4 separate regions of the Homo sapiens genome follow, and all the other regions are reported to be linked to region 4. Evidence: microRNA targets listed by miRTarBase, many of them from high-throughput screens and not tested one by one. Region 4 holds a microRNA gene; each other region holds the end of a gene's coding sequence.

Region 1 (3,134 bases), not on the chromosome of region 4:
AAAGTTTAGTAATCTTATATGAACTGCTTTTACTTTTCTGCATTGTACCCAGAAGGTGATGTTTTACTTAATATTTAGTCAGTTATTTTAACCAGAAACTTTTAATACTAAGCAAGGGGGATTTCTTCCTTTCTATCACAATTATACTACATTCCATGTGGACAACTGTATCTCTGGCAGTTAATTCTAGAGGTGGAAATTAGGGAAGGGGGTAGTATGGAAGCATACAGCATTTACAAAACTGGCAAAAAATAAAATAAGTCAAGGGGAGGCTCAGATTCTTTCTTTGGACAAAGGTGGGCTTTGAGGAAAGATCCTCACTCATCAGAGGCCGAGCCCTACACTAACCACAGTAATTTGTATTGATACCCAATTTAGTTCAGGAGCTATAAAAATGTATGTTTGCGGCCAGGCGTGGTGGTTCATGCCTGTAATACCAGCACTTTGGGAGGCCAAGGCGGGTGGATCACGAGGTCATGAGATCGAGACCATCCTGGCTAACACGGTGAAACCCCATCTCTACTAAAAATACAAAAAATTAGCTGGGCACGGTGGCGGATACCTGTAGTCCCAGCTACTCCAGAGGCTGAGGCAGGAGAATGGCGTGAACCCGGGAGGCGGAGCTTGCAGTGAGTCGAGATAGCGCCACTACACTCCCGCCTGGGAGAAAGAGTGAGACTCCGTCTCAAAAAAAAAAAAAAGTATGTTTGCATTATTGCACATAAAAATTAAAAATTGAGAGCTATTTGTATTCATCTATTGAGAGAAACGGTCTCTGGGGGTTAGGATGGGGACCTGTCCCCATTATAGACCCGTTCTGGTCTATAATTTACCTAAGACGAGAGCAGAAAGGGTTTTAAATGCTGATCCTAAGTTGTCGTCGGAGGGCAGTACCCCAGAGGACAGGGGAATCATTCCTAACACTGGCAGGGGCCAGAGGCTGACAGCTGGCATTGAACACCTGAATGTCAGGATATTACTCGCCTCTCTCTAATTCTTCCCAATAGAGCGGATACACTCTGGACTCCCTGGGGTGGAGCAGCTACATGGGCAGTTTGTACTTGTTCCTCTTGTCTCTTCATCTGCCCATAAGCCCAAGGCACTCAGAGTCTTCCCTCACTGACACCCAGCAAGCCGGTGAACACACCGGCCCACTGCATTGGGAAGCCCTTTCCTTTTGCTAAGGACTGCATTCGTCTATGCTGCATCTTGAGGCTGTGCAGTATCACCTCCCCTCCTCCATGGTTTTTCTTCTCTAGGCCTAGCAGGCAAGGGAGAAGGAGAGATGCCAGAAGCCTCTGTCTTTCCTTCCCCATTCGTTTCTTACTGAGTCTTGGAGTTAAATTGTTAGTTAGTGCCGGGCGTGTGGCTCACACCTGTAATCTCAGCACTTTGGGAGGCAAAGGTGGGCGAATCAACTGAGATCAGGAGTTTGAAACCACCCTGGCCAACATGGTGAAACTCCATCTCTACTAAACATACAAAAATTACCTGGGCGTGGTGGGGGGGCCCTGTGGTCCCAGCTACATGGGAGGCTGAGGCAGGAGAATCACTTGAACCCGGGAGGCAGAGGTTGCAGTGAGCTGAGATCACGCCACTTCCCTCCAGCCTGGGCAACAGAGTGGGAGTCCATCTCAAAAAAAAAAAAAAAAAAAAGAGGAAAGAATGCCAATTCATGATTTAAAAGTAAAATCAAATAGACTCCAGCTGTCAACTTAGCATATTCACAGTAGGTCCAGCACCGCTTATATCTAATGTTTCATAGTTCATAATGGAGTAACATTCATAGTTACTGAAGTTTAGATAAAAGAAGTGTCACCCTCTATGGCAACCCCTCCCCTGAAACACACATGGACTCTAGTCTAGCCATGGGCTCAATACTGTTTTAAGCATTGCTACTACACTACCACCAAATCTCAGTTTCTAACAGGGGGCAAAGAGCATTTTTAGAAGACGCTTAGTAACAGAAAAATTAACCAAGGGAAGAACAATCTTAATTACGGGATATTTTTACTGGAATGTAGACATTACTTTTGAATATATAGGACAATAGAAATTGCATCAAAGCAATGCTGCCTAACAGACACAGCAGGAAACTTATTGGCATGGCCAGGCTAGTATATTTTCTCATTAGTATATCAACTAATTATAGGAAAAGTACTGTTTCTAAAGTGCTTGAAACATTTGCCTACGTCACTGTTCTCTTTTTCAATGACCTCCTTCATAAAGTCAAACTCTAGCCCAAACTTAAGCCCATCTCACTGCATATTGTAAAGAATGGATTCTGAATGAATTAACAGAAATGCTTTTATATAGGAGGTTGCAGAGATTCTCTTGCAGTCAATGTCTAGAGGAGCTGACCCTCAGGCATCACTCAGAGGAAGTCCCAGCCAAGATTCACAGATCTGTATGTAGCCTTCGGTCAATATCACAGTGTACATCAGGAGTCTCAAGTTCATTGCACAGAACTGGTCCTGTAGCAGGGAAGACTCAGAATTCCTGAGTTTTCTCCTTATGGTGACTCCTCAGGGATAGCCACCATCTTAAATCCAGGAATGGGGCCCAGCTGGGAATGGAGAAAGTTGCAGGCCCACATGCTCCCTGGACGGAAGTCACACGGAGCCTCTGTGCGGGCACCTGAGAAGCTGCCAGAACACCTGCCCAGCAGCAGTGCATCCTCCCCACTCAGTGTCCATCTGCCATCTAGACATGGAGGAGGAAAAGAAAAGAGACAAATATGAACACACTTTGGTTTTCCCACTGTGCATCTCTATGCACAGCTCACACGCACACCCATGGGAGGAGGCGAGGGGGAGCAGCATGGAAGCTCAGCCACCCCTCTGTGTGTGGCCAGGGCAGCCATCACTGGTCCTGCTCTTTTCCTGGGAAGGCATCCCCCATGCTACCTGGAGGTACAGGGTTAGTCATGCCTTTCACCGCTGAGTGTGCTCTGCTGAGCCAAGGACAACCTCCACCCACACTCCCTTTGACTCCCCTCATCCCCAGCTGTTCTTCGTGACTCTGACCCATCCTCCCCTCCATTCCAGTCATTTCTCAAAAATGACACCCTCACATACCACACCGCTGAGAAGGAGAGGAATGTGAGAATGATCACAACAGCCAGGGAACCCAGT
Region 2 (3,134 bases), not on the chromosome of region 4:
TGAAGATCCAACATCATACATGGAGGTGGCTAAAACCATTAAAGACGTTTTTCATAATCACGGAATTCACGCTACTACCATTCAGCCTGAATTTGCTAGTGTAGGCTCTAAATCAAGTGTAGTTCCGTGTGAACTTGCCTGCAGAACCCAGTGTGCTTTGAAGCAATGTTGTGGGACACTACCACAAGCCCCTTCTGGAAAGGATGCAGAAAAGACCCCAGCAGTTAGCATTTCTTGTTTAGAACTTAGTAACAATCTAGAGAAGAAGCCCAGGAGGACTAAAGCTGAAAACATCCCTGCTGTTGTGATAGAGATTAAAAACATGCCAAACAAACAACCTGAATCATCTTTGTGAGTCTTGAAAAAGATGTGATATTTGACTTTTGCTTTAAACTGCAAGAGGAAAAAGACTCCACTGAAATTCTAAGTTTGCCAAGTAGTGTAATTGAAGTCCTTGTCTGGTCACACAGTTTAATTCTATTTTTGTAAGAACATAATGGGACTGCATAACAGAGTTCTATATTACAATTTTGTGATTATTAGTACAGAGTACAGCTATGCTGTGACTGTTTTGGAAAGCCAGTTTTAACACTATGTTACATTTTTGTTTAAAGTAAGTTAAACCTTATATAACATAATGACATTTGATTTCTGGATTTTTCCCATGATAAAAATTAGGGGGATAAATAAAATTGTTACTGGAATTTCTCTGCTTTTCTTTTCCCCCAGTGTTATACTTTATTAGAATTATAATTGATAGAACTTTAAAATCATCAACAGTTTGTTTCCTTTGACATTTTAGGTGATATTGCCCTTTGAGATCATTACATAGCATAATGGCAGCATATTTTAAGAGTGACTCATGGCTATTAGTAGGAAATAAGATCAGTTACTATCCTGTATTCTGTATTGCTGGCTATTAAACAGTAAGATAATTAACAAATTGAACTACAGTTTACACACAATGGGGCAAATGGGGTAGTAAGAGCAAGGAAGAAAGTTTACCAAACTAAATATTTAGGTTATTGTATGATAATATTGAGACTACATTTCTAAATTATTTTGAGAATTTCAACTTTTTATTCTACCAAAGTTAATCTGAAACTTGGACATGTTCACCAGCATTACTTTCTTTGAAAGATTGGTATAAAAACATTGAGCTGCAAGTTTATTTACAAAATATATAAGTATTTTTAAGGATGTTGACACCTAATAATTACATGCTAAACGCAAACGATTAATGTAATCTTTTAAACCGGGCGTTTGAAAAAAAATTTTCAAGGTCATTTCATGATAACCAATCATGAATGGATTTAAATGGAGCTTTTTGAGCACAACCAGCAATGTTTGTGCTTTCTAAGAGTCACTGACTTGAGAGGAAAGAAAACCAGAAGGTTAATGCAGTTTGGATATTAAATTCTTAGCAAAATTAATAATTAAAGCAAAATTAATTAAGATTTTGTAAGTCATCCTGTCTTCACATACTCAGATCTTCCAATAGTGGCTTATTTTGCAAGATGCCACAATATCTACACAGAAAATTGTGGCTATTTCATTATTGCTATAGATTTCAAATCCAACACAAATATTTAAGGGTGTTTAAGTTATATTTTTCTTGATAGAGGGTATGCTTTGTGACAAAATTAGATTTTTGTCCTTGAAAGGATTAATATTAGCATCAGTTATGTATAGCTCTATTTTTCTAGAAACAAGGTATTCTGACTACTTTTATAGCTGACTACTTTTGGGATGGCTACGTTTTGGGATTTAAAATAGTTCATTGTTTAATGGGTTGTAAGAGGAAAAAGTGTTAGGATTTGACAGTTACTTTTTAAAGGGATGATCTTTTGTGGTGTGTGTTTTTCCTAGTATAAGCCTATTGCTGGCGATGGGCCTATTTAAGAACAGCTGATTTTTTCCAGTGAAAATATGGTAATTTTAGGAACACAGTTTGTAAGTTCACATTTACTATAATGGGCCAAAACCATAACCTGCCAGTTTGCAATACATCTTGATCTTTTAATATTCTTATCTGATATTGTGTAATTCAATTCCTAAACTGATAGTTACCTTGAATTTTGCGAAAAGGTTTGGGTGGTTTTTTTTAAACATGAAATTGAGGGATCTCATCTGGGCGAACAAGAAGAGAAAGCTGTGAATTGTACTGTATCATGTACATTCCTGATTTAATACTTTACAGAACATTTTATTCAGATATCAATTTGTTACATAAACATTTCAGCAATGATACAAAGATAACTGATAAAATATATTACATTCAATGAGGTTTTCTTTACAAATGCTCTACTTGAGGTCTGTGTCTTAAAGATGGCATGACACCTAAGTACAAGACATCAACTGAATGAGGATTTTAAAAAATGGTATATAAGCATAGGACAAGGGCTATGTTTGTTTGTTTTTCAAAAGTGCTTTGAAGATAACAGCCTTTAGGTTTGAGTTATTTCACTTTTCATAATTTTTAAGTAGCTTATATATAATGGTGGTACCATAGGATTTTCTTTTTTCAAATGACTGTCGGCAGAAACAGTGGGCACTGACTCACCTTTTGAGTTTTAGCAGAGAATTATTTATTTCTTTACAATGCACTTTCTAACCCATTGTAGCTATATTAGCATTATCTTTTAAAAAAGACATGCTTTTGTATTTAAATATTGTAGGATTTAAGTGTCTTTCTCAAAATAGCTTATTCCTTTCTGAAAGAAAATGAGGGAAATACTCTGAATTATTAGGAGACTTAAACCCAATATTTAAATATGCTATTTTATAACACTGCATCAGTTTTAGGAGTTGCATCTCTCCTGCTGGCTCTTTTATATTTGAGCAAGATCAGTGTAGAATATGTGTTTAGAAACTTGTCTGTTGTCTCAGTTTAGTGAAAAGGAGGTGCTGCATGTGCCTGAATTAAAACCAAGAAATTTTTCCAAGCCAAATGCAGCCTTAGTGATGAGAGATTTAATTCTCCATTGTCACCTTTTAGCTTTTATGATTGCTTAGTTTTTTCTGAAGGATGTCTGCATTGTAAAACTATGGACTAAAACCTAAAAAACAGAATCCTCAAAAACTTTGCTGTATGTGTTTTAACATTTTAGAGAACAGTATGTTGAATAACTAAG
Region 3 (3,134 bases), not on the chromosome of region 4:
CACTATGAGACAAGCCTTCCAGCCTTGCTGCCTGCTTTTGGAAGATCTTGCCTACTGTGTATGCCCTACTGGGTATATAAGTTTCCTGAGTATTTTGTTTTTTTCCCATTTATAGTGGCTCTCATATTTCATGTGCTACACAGCATCAGGCAATTAGGGGGCAATGAAGTCTGTCAGATAAAGGCCAACTGTAATAAAGAAAGCCTAATCTATCAAGCTGGTAATTTGCTGAATCACCTCTCCTATTCTTTTTTGTGCCTGTTCACCATAGGATTATGTAAACTTGGGCCCCCTGGGAGTGAAGCTTATGAGTGTGGAGAGCAAGAAAATGCCCATTCATTTTCAAGAGAAGGAAATTCCAGTCAAACTCTATAAAGATGTCAGGAGCCCAGAAAGCCACATCACATATAAGATGATGAAGTCTTTTCTCTAAGACGGAAAGCTGCAAAGGAAACACAACTTTTCCTTATAAATGTTCTTTGGGAACTGAAGTATATCCGTTGCCCATTTTACTTACACTTTGGCTCATTTTTAAACCAGCTGTTATTTCTAAAGGTCATATTTACATTTAAAATCAAAGGTATTCAGCTATTCATTTACTTGCATGGTATGAGTGACCAAAACGGAAGCACGCTTTGTATTTCTACACTGAAGTATTCAGAAGCATGACAGTGGGTTCAAGGTAGTCTCTGAGGTTCCTTTTCACACACAAAAAATTCACTGATTAATCTGTGATTCCAGTATGAAATAGTTCCATTAGAAATGTTTCTAAGAAAAACTTAGAAGTTTGCATAGCATTGTCTACACATCTTTCCCTCTGAGGATGCTCAATGTGATAGACAGCCAGTCTATAATGCAAGCCAATTCTCCGTAGTTTAACCCTGTGTATTAGTCTGTTCTCATGCTGCTAATAAAGACATAATTGAAACTGGGTAATTTATAAAGGAGGTTTAATTTATTTACAGTTCAACATGGCTGGGGAGGCCTCACAATCATGTCAGAAGGCAAATGAGGAGCAAAGTCACATCATACATGGTGGCAGGAAAGAGAGGGCTTGTGTAGGGGAATTCCCATTTATAAAACTATCAGATCTTGTGAGACTTATTTACTACTTCAAGAACAGTATGGGAAAAACCTGCCTCCATGATTCAATTACCTCCTACCAGGTCCCTCCCACAACACATGGGGATTATGGGAACTATAATTCAAGATGAGATTTGGGTGGGGACATAGCCAAACCATATCACCCTGTTTATAATGAATATAAAAAATGAATGTTGGAAATAAACTTGAGAGTGTTAATTTGTTGTATAAAAATATTCCACTGATAGGGAGCACTCCCTCCCTCCAGCTGTATCTAGTCTAAACTACCACATTCCTATCCAAAGCAAATACCACTTCTCTCAGGGCTACCACAAGCCAAGGACACTGTGAGTACCTGGATGTGACATCAGCATTCCATTTGGATCCTTGAGACCAGATAATACCACCATATGTCATATTTCTGTAATCTTTAGTGATATAAGGATTAATTTAATCATCAGTGGGGGATGTTATTGGCATTTAAAGTAAGGACAATTGTGCAGCACTGTCTTGAGCCCACAGGATGTTAGCACTCCTGCTCCCTCAATCTCAAATGCTGCTACATTAACACTCTTCATTGTAGAAGTTGAAAACACTCGTCATCTTTCCCAACACCCCTTACATTGTAGTACCATCACCAATTGAACATCTTTGAGTTTCTCAATTTTTGGAGACAAGGACTCACTCTGTCACCCAGGCTAGAGTGCAGTGGCACTATCATAGCTCACAGCATCCTGAAACTCCTGGGCTCAAGCAATCCTCCTGCCTCAACCTCCCGAGTAGCTGGGACTGCAGGTCTGTACTATCATGCCTCAACCTCCAACAGTGCTAGGATTACAGGCATGAGCCACCGACCGGCCTCTCCTGTACTTTAATCTCCATTGTGTTCGGTGCTTTCCTGGACCCTTCCCATTCTCTCCCAAAACTTCCAACAACAACCTCTAAAAAAACAATAAACAAGACAAATGCCACTGTTGAAGGTGTAAATGTCCAAGGGGTTCACCTTGCCTGCTGCCTATACAGAGCCAATTCCTCAAGACAGGGGAGCCGGGCATGGTGGCTCACCCCTGTAATCCCAGCATTTTGGGAGGCCGAGGCGGGTAGATCACAAGGTCAGCAGATCAAGACCATCCTGTCAAGACCATCCTGGCTAACACGGTGAAACCCCTTCTCTACTAAAATTACAAAAAAATTAGCCAGGTGTGGTGGCAGGCGCCTGTAGTCCCAGCTACTTGGGAGGCTGAGGCAGGAGAATGGAGTGAACCCGGGAGGCGGAGGTTGCAGTGAGCCGAGATCGCACCACTGCACTCCAGCCTGGGCAACACAGCAAGACTCCGCCTCAAAAAAAAAAAAAAAAAAAAAAAAAAGAGGGGAATTGCAACAGACAAAAGAGTAATTCACACAGAGCCAGCTGTGCGGGAGACCAGCGTTGTTTTATTACTCAAATCATTCTCCCTTAGCATTCGGGGAGCAGAGTTTTTAAGGACAACATGGTAGATGTGGGGAAGCCAGTGAGCCGGGACTGCTGATTGGTCAGAGATGAAATCATAGGGAGCCAAAGCTGTCCTCCTGACCAAATCAGTTCCTAGATGGGGGGGCCACAAGATCAGATGAGCCAGTTTATCAATCTAGGTAGTGCCAGCTGATTCATGATGTGCAGGGTCTGCAAAATATCTCAAGCACTGATCTTAGGAGCAGTTTAGAGACAGTCAGAATCTTGTAGCCTCCAGCTGCATGACTCCCAAACCATAATTTCTAATCTTGTGGCTAATGTTAGTCCTACAAATGCAATCTACTCCCTAGGCAAGAAGGAAGACTGCTTTGGGAAAGGGCTGTTATCATCTTTGTTTTAAACTGTATACTAAGTTTTTCCCAAAGTTAGTTGACCCTCCGCCCAAGAATGAAAAGGACAGTTTGGAGATTAGAAGCAAGATGGAGTCAATTAAATTAGATCTCTTTCGCCGTCTTGGTCATAATTTTGCAAAGGCAGTTTCAAAGGTGTCTTTTCTTTTTGAGACAGGGTCTCACTGTCATCTAGGCTGGAGTGCAGC
Region 4 (3,134 bases):
CTCACAGCTCAGGGAAAAGAGGCAGTGAAGAGCTGGGTACAATGGCACTGTGCCTATAGTCCCAGCTACTCAGGAGGCTGAGGCAGGAGGATCACGTGAGGCCAGGAGTCCAAGGTTGCAGTGTGCTACAATCGCACCTGTGAATAGCCACTGCACTCCAGTCTAGGCTAATATAGTGAGACCCTGTCCCTTTAAAAAAAAAAAAAAAAAAAAAAAAAAAGGCAGCGGGCATGGTGGCTCACACCTGTAATCCCAGCACTTTGGGAGGTGGAGATGGGTGGATCACGAGGTCAAGAGATCAAGAACATCCTAGCCAACATGGTGAAACCCTGTCTCTACTAAAAATACCAAAAAAAAATTAGCTGGGCATGGTGGCATGTGCCTATAGTCCCAGCTAGTCAGGAGGCTGAGGCAGAAGAATTGCTTGAACCCGGAGGCAGAGGTTGCAGTGAGCCGAGATCCCGCCACTACACTCCAGCCTGGTGACAGAGTGAGACTCAGTCTCAAAAAAAAAAAAAAAAAAAAAAAAAGTCAGTGAGTCCAGGGGACTAAACCCAGGGCTAGGAGTTAGGAGAGCCCACCTCCAGGCCCACCGTACCATCTCTTCTTATTGACAGAAAAGTATTAGGGCATAAAAAGTATTATCACAATAAAAGCACCAAGTATAGTTTAAAGCTTTTAAAAAGTTCACACTCTCATCGGTAATATCACTTCTAGGAACTTACCCTAAAAAAGTAATCAGAAGTATACACCAAGAAATATGTAAAAAGGTGCTGATAATTCAGAAAAAATCCCATATCCAATGACTTGACCCATTTGACAGTATTATCAGTATGACAGATTATCACCATCTGACAGGTAATCACCATCCAGCCATTAAAATCATGTTGCAGAAGAACATTGAATGGCATATAAAGAAGCTGAGAAATTCACAGAATTTTTTCTTCTGTCACAAATCTACCAACAGATATGCTTTGTTTGTAAAACATATGAATAGGAATGAATTTAGATCAGACCTATGCTCCCCAACTTGCCCTGGCCCCACCATCCAGCCCACTTGACACTTGTAAATTCATTGTCCCTCCAAGCAACTGAGTTTGCATGCCCTGGTATGTATGTATAGTTCCATTTTTTAAATGTATATGCATAGGTAGAAAAACTACAATTTTAATAATGCTCACCACTGGGCAACTGGATTAAGAATTATAATTCTCTTGTTTTTGTGTTTTCCGACTTTTCTATAAACATGTATCACTAAAGTATAATTGGAAAAATGTCATTAGCAAAAAATAAGAAAAGACAGACACTAAAAAAAAGACGCTAAAAAAAGAACTGAACATCATTACATGTTAAAAACCAAGGCCAGCCAACTTCCAGGTCCCCACAGAGAAGGGAGAGAGCCATGAGACCAGCAGGGTCCTGTTTCCACAATGTACTTGCCCACCAACACCCAGACCCAAGACAGGCTCAGACACAACAACCCAGGCATGAGCACACAAACATATGGGCTCACTCAAGCACCTGCTCACCGTCCCTCACCTGCAGCTGAGTCCTGCAGGACAAGGTCCTCCAGCGCAGGCCAGTCTGTGTTTAGCCGCTTCACCAGTTTGTAGGCATTCACAGGGTGAGCCAGGTAGCCCTCAGCATCAGCAGCTGACTTGCTAGTCAAGGCTTCCATTTTGTTGGCCCAGCTGTGGAACCAGAGGAAAAGGAAGACTAATGCGTCCACCCACATAGGTCTTGACCTGTGACAATTTTCCTAGTGAGAATTCCCTGGTGCCAGGTTCTGGGGCCCTTTTCATCAAGAGGCAATGAAAAATGAATACAGTAACTCCCCACAGATACTTCTAGCCCCTTAATCTAGATAACAGCTGGGACCCCCAATGTAAGGGAAAAGGTCTTAAATAGAAAATAAACAGTGACTCCTTAGCCCATGTACTTAGCTCCTCTCAAGCACTGGCATGAAGTAACCAGGCCAGCCCCACATCACCCTCTCAAAGGTTTCCTCTTATAGGCACCCTGGATGGCTTCCTTGTTCCTTGAGGGGCAGAAGGGAAGGAAGGCCAACTAAGGATGGTTGGGGACTTAGGACACCTCTTAATCTTGGAAAGCTTGGCTTCCTCCACAAGGATGTACTCTTTCAGAGACTGCACCAGCTCTTTCTCTGCATAAATCAGGTCAGTCATGTGCCCTGCAAGGGAGAGAAGAAAGACACCAGTGAGAAACAGATGAGGGATGTCCAGCCTCCTTCCTTGGGGCACAGAATACCAGCACAGAAGCAAGTCCCCTGGGATAAGAACATGTCAGCTCTCTGAGGATTATGGGGACTTGGAGTTAAAGGGGGCCTAGGCACTCATGGGGCTCTATCTCGCAACTTCAGGAAGAAAGAGGCAGAGGCACCAAGGGGATGTTTGAGATAAGTGCACTGGATGTCACTCAAGAAGCAGCCCTAAATCTCATTCTCCGACTGTTACATAGCTGGTCATGACACTGGGGCATGGATATCCTGGGGGCTCACCACAGGATAAAAAGCTCTGAACTTTAGGTCGGAAGGATAGGAAAAGCTTGATCCTCAGGATACAAAGGATTTGCTGCTCAGAACCACTCTCTGGTCCATGGGCAAGGTGGTCAAAAAGACCAGAGAGCCCAAGTGCAGCCTGCACTTCCCAGGAAGAAAGACCCAATTCAGACATCTGGCTCCCTGAACATCCAGATCATTGGGATCTTATAGGGGAAAACAGCAACTCTGCCAGTTCCACTCTCCTCAGAACTGGCCAAAACCAGTAGTTAAGGCTATCCCACTCTAAATGAGAACAGGCTGCAGCCAGAGACATCCGTGGCATGTGAGCCAAGGTGTCAGGGAGACGACAGTCCTGTTGGCACGTACCAATAGAGGTGAAGAATTCGGCCTGCACACAGCTCAGGACACCAAACCAGGCCATCAGCAATGCAGACACCCAGAGTTTCATGGTCACAGAGGGAAGTGTCTGAAAGGCATTCAATGACAATCACTGGATCAACAAAGTGAAAAAGACTAATTTAGGTGAGGAGACACATAGGCATGTACACACATATGCAGATAATCAAACATATCAAAATCCTGGCCTAGCACACAGAAGCTAAAAAGGACAAAC

Evidence for each region. Region 4 holds the annotated microRNA hsa-miR-6830-3p (UGUCUUUCUUCUCUCCCUUGCAG, at 2,192-2,214, opposite strand). A microRNA usually pairs through its seed, bases 2 to 8, with sites in the 3' UTR of a target mRNA and lowers its output. Matches are read on the target gene's strand: a 7mer-m8 pairs with bases 2 to 8, a 7mer-A1 pairs with bases 2 to 7 and ends in A, and an 8mer does both.
Region 1: the mRNA of SUSD1 is a reported target of hsa-miR-6830-3p. The part of its 3' UTR that is shown has no 7-base or 8-base seed match.
Region 2: miRTarBase lists SLC30A1 as a target of hsa-miR-6830-3p. Seed matches in the 3' UTR shown: 7mer-A1 at 2,648-2,654.
Region 3: the mRNA of CCDC83 is a reported target of hsa-miR-6830-3p. Seed matches in the 3' UTR shown: 7mer-A1 at 913-919.

What each region holds. Positions count from the first base shown.
Region 1 is chr9:112,038,790-112,041,923 of GRCh38, forward strand. It overlaps SUSD1 (sushi domain containing 1), which reads right to left. Exons shown (of 17, transcript NM_022486.5): 16 at 3,078-3,134; 17 at 1,994-2,703. The coding sequence ends at 2,703. LINC02977 (long intergenic non-protein coding RNA 2977) reads right to left here and starts at 1,635. Exons shown (of 3, transcript NR_186812.1): 1 at 1-1,635. RefSeq lists enhancers at 2,243-2,882, 2,278-3,134, 2,883-3,134.
Region 2 is chr1:211,572,609-211,575,742 of GRCh38, reverse strand. It overlaps SLC30A1 (solute carrier family 30 member 1), which reads left to right. Exons shown (of 2, transcript NM_021194.3): 2 at 1-3,134. The coding sequence ends at 355. Among named protein-coding and RNA genes, the nearest start is that of SLC30A1, 5.0 kb to the left of the region's middle.
Region 3 is chr11:85,919,078-85,922,211 of GRCh38, forward strand. CCDC83 (coiled-coil domain containing 83) reads left to right here. Exons shown (of 11, transcript NM_001286159.2): 11 at 272-936. The coding sequence ends at 433. Among named protein-coding and RNA genes, the nearest start is that of CCDC83, 65 kb to the left of the region's middle.
Region 4 is chr5:132,215,658-132,218,791 of GRCh38, forward strand. It overlaps MIR6830 (microRNA 6830), which reads right to left and starts at 2,261; the gene lies at 2,192-2,261. P4HA2 (prolyl 4-hydroxylase subunit alpha 2) reads right to left here. Exons shown (of 15, transcript NM_001017974.2): 2 at 2,888-2,987; 3 at 2,095-2,191; 4 at 1,540-1,691. The coding sequence starts at 2,969.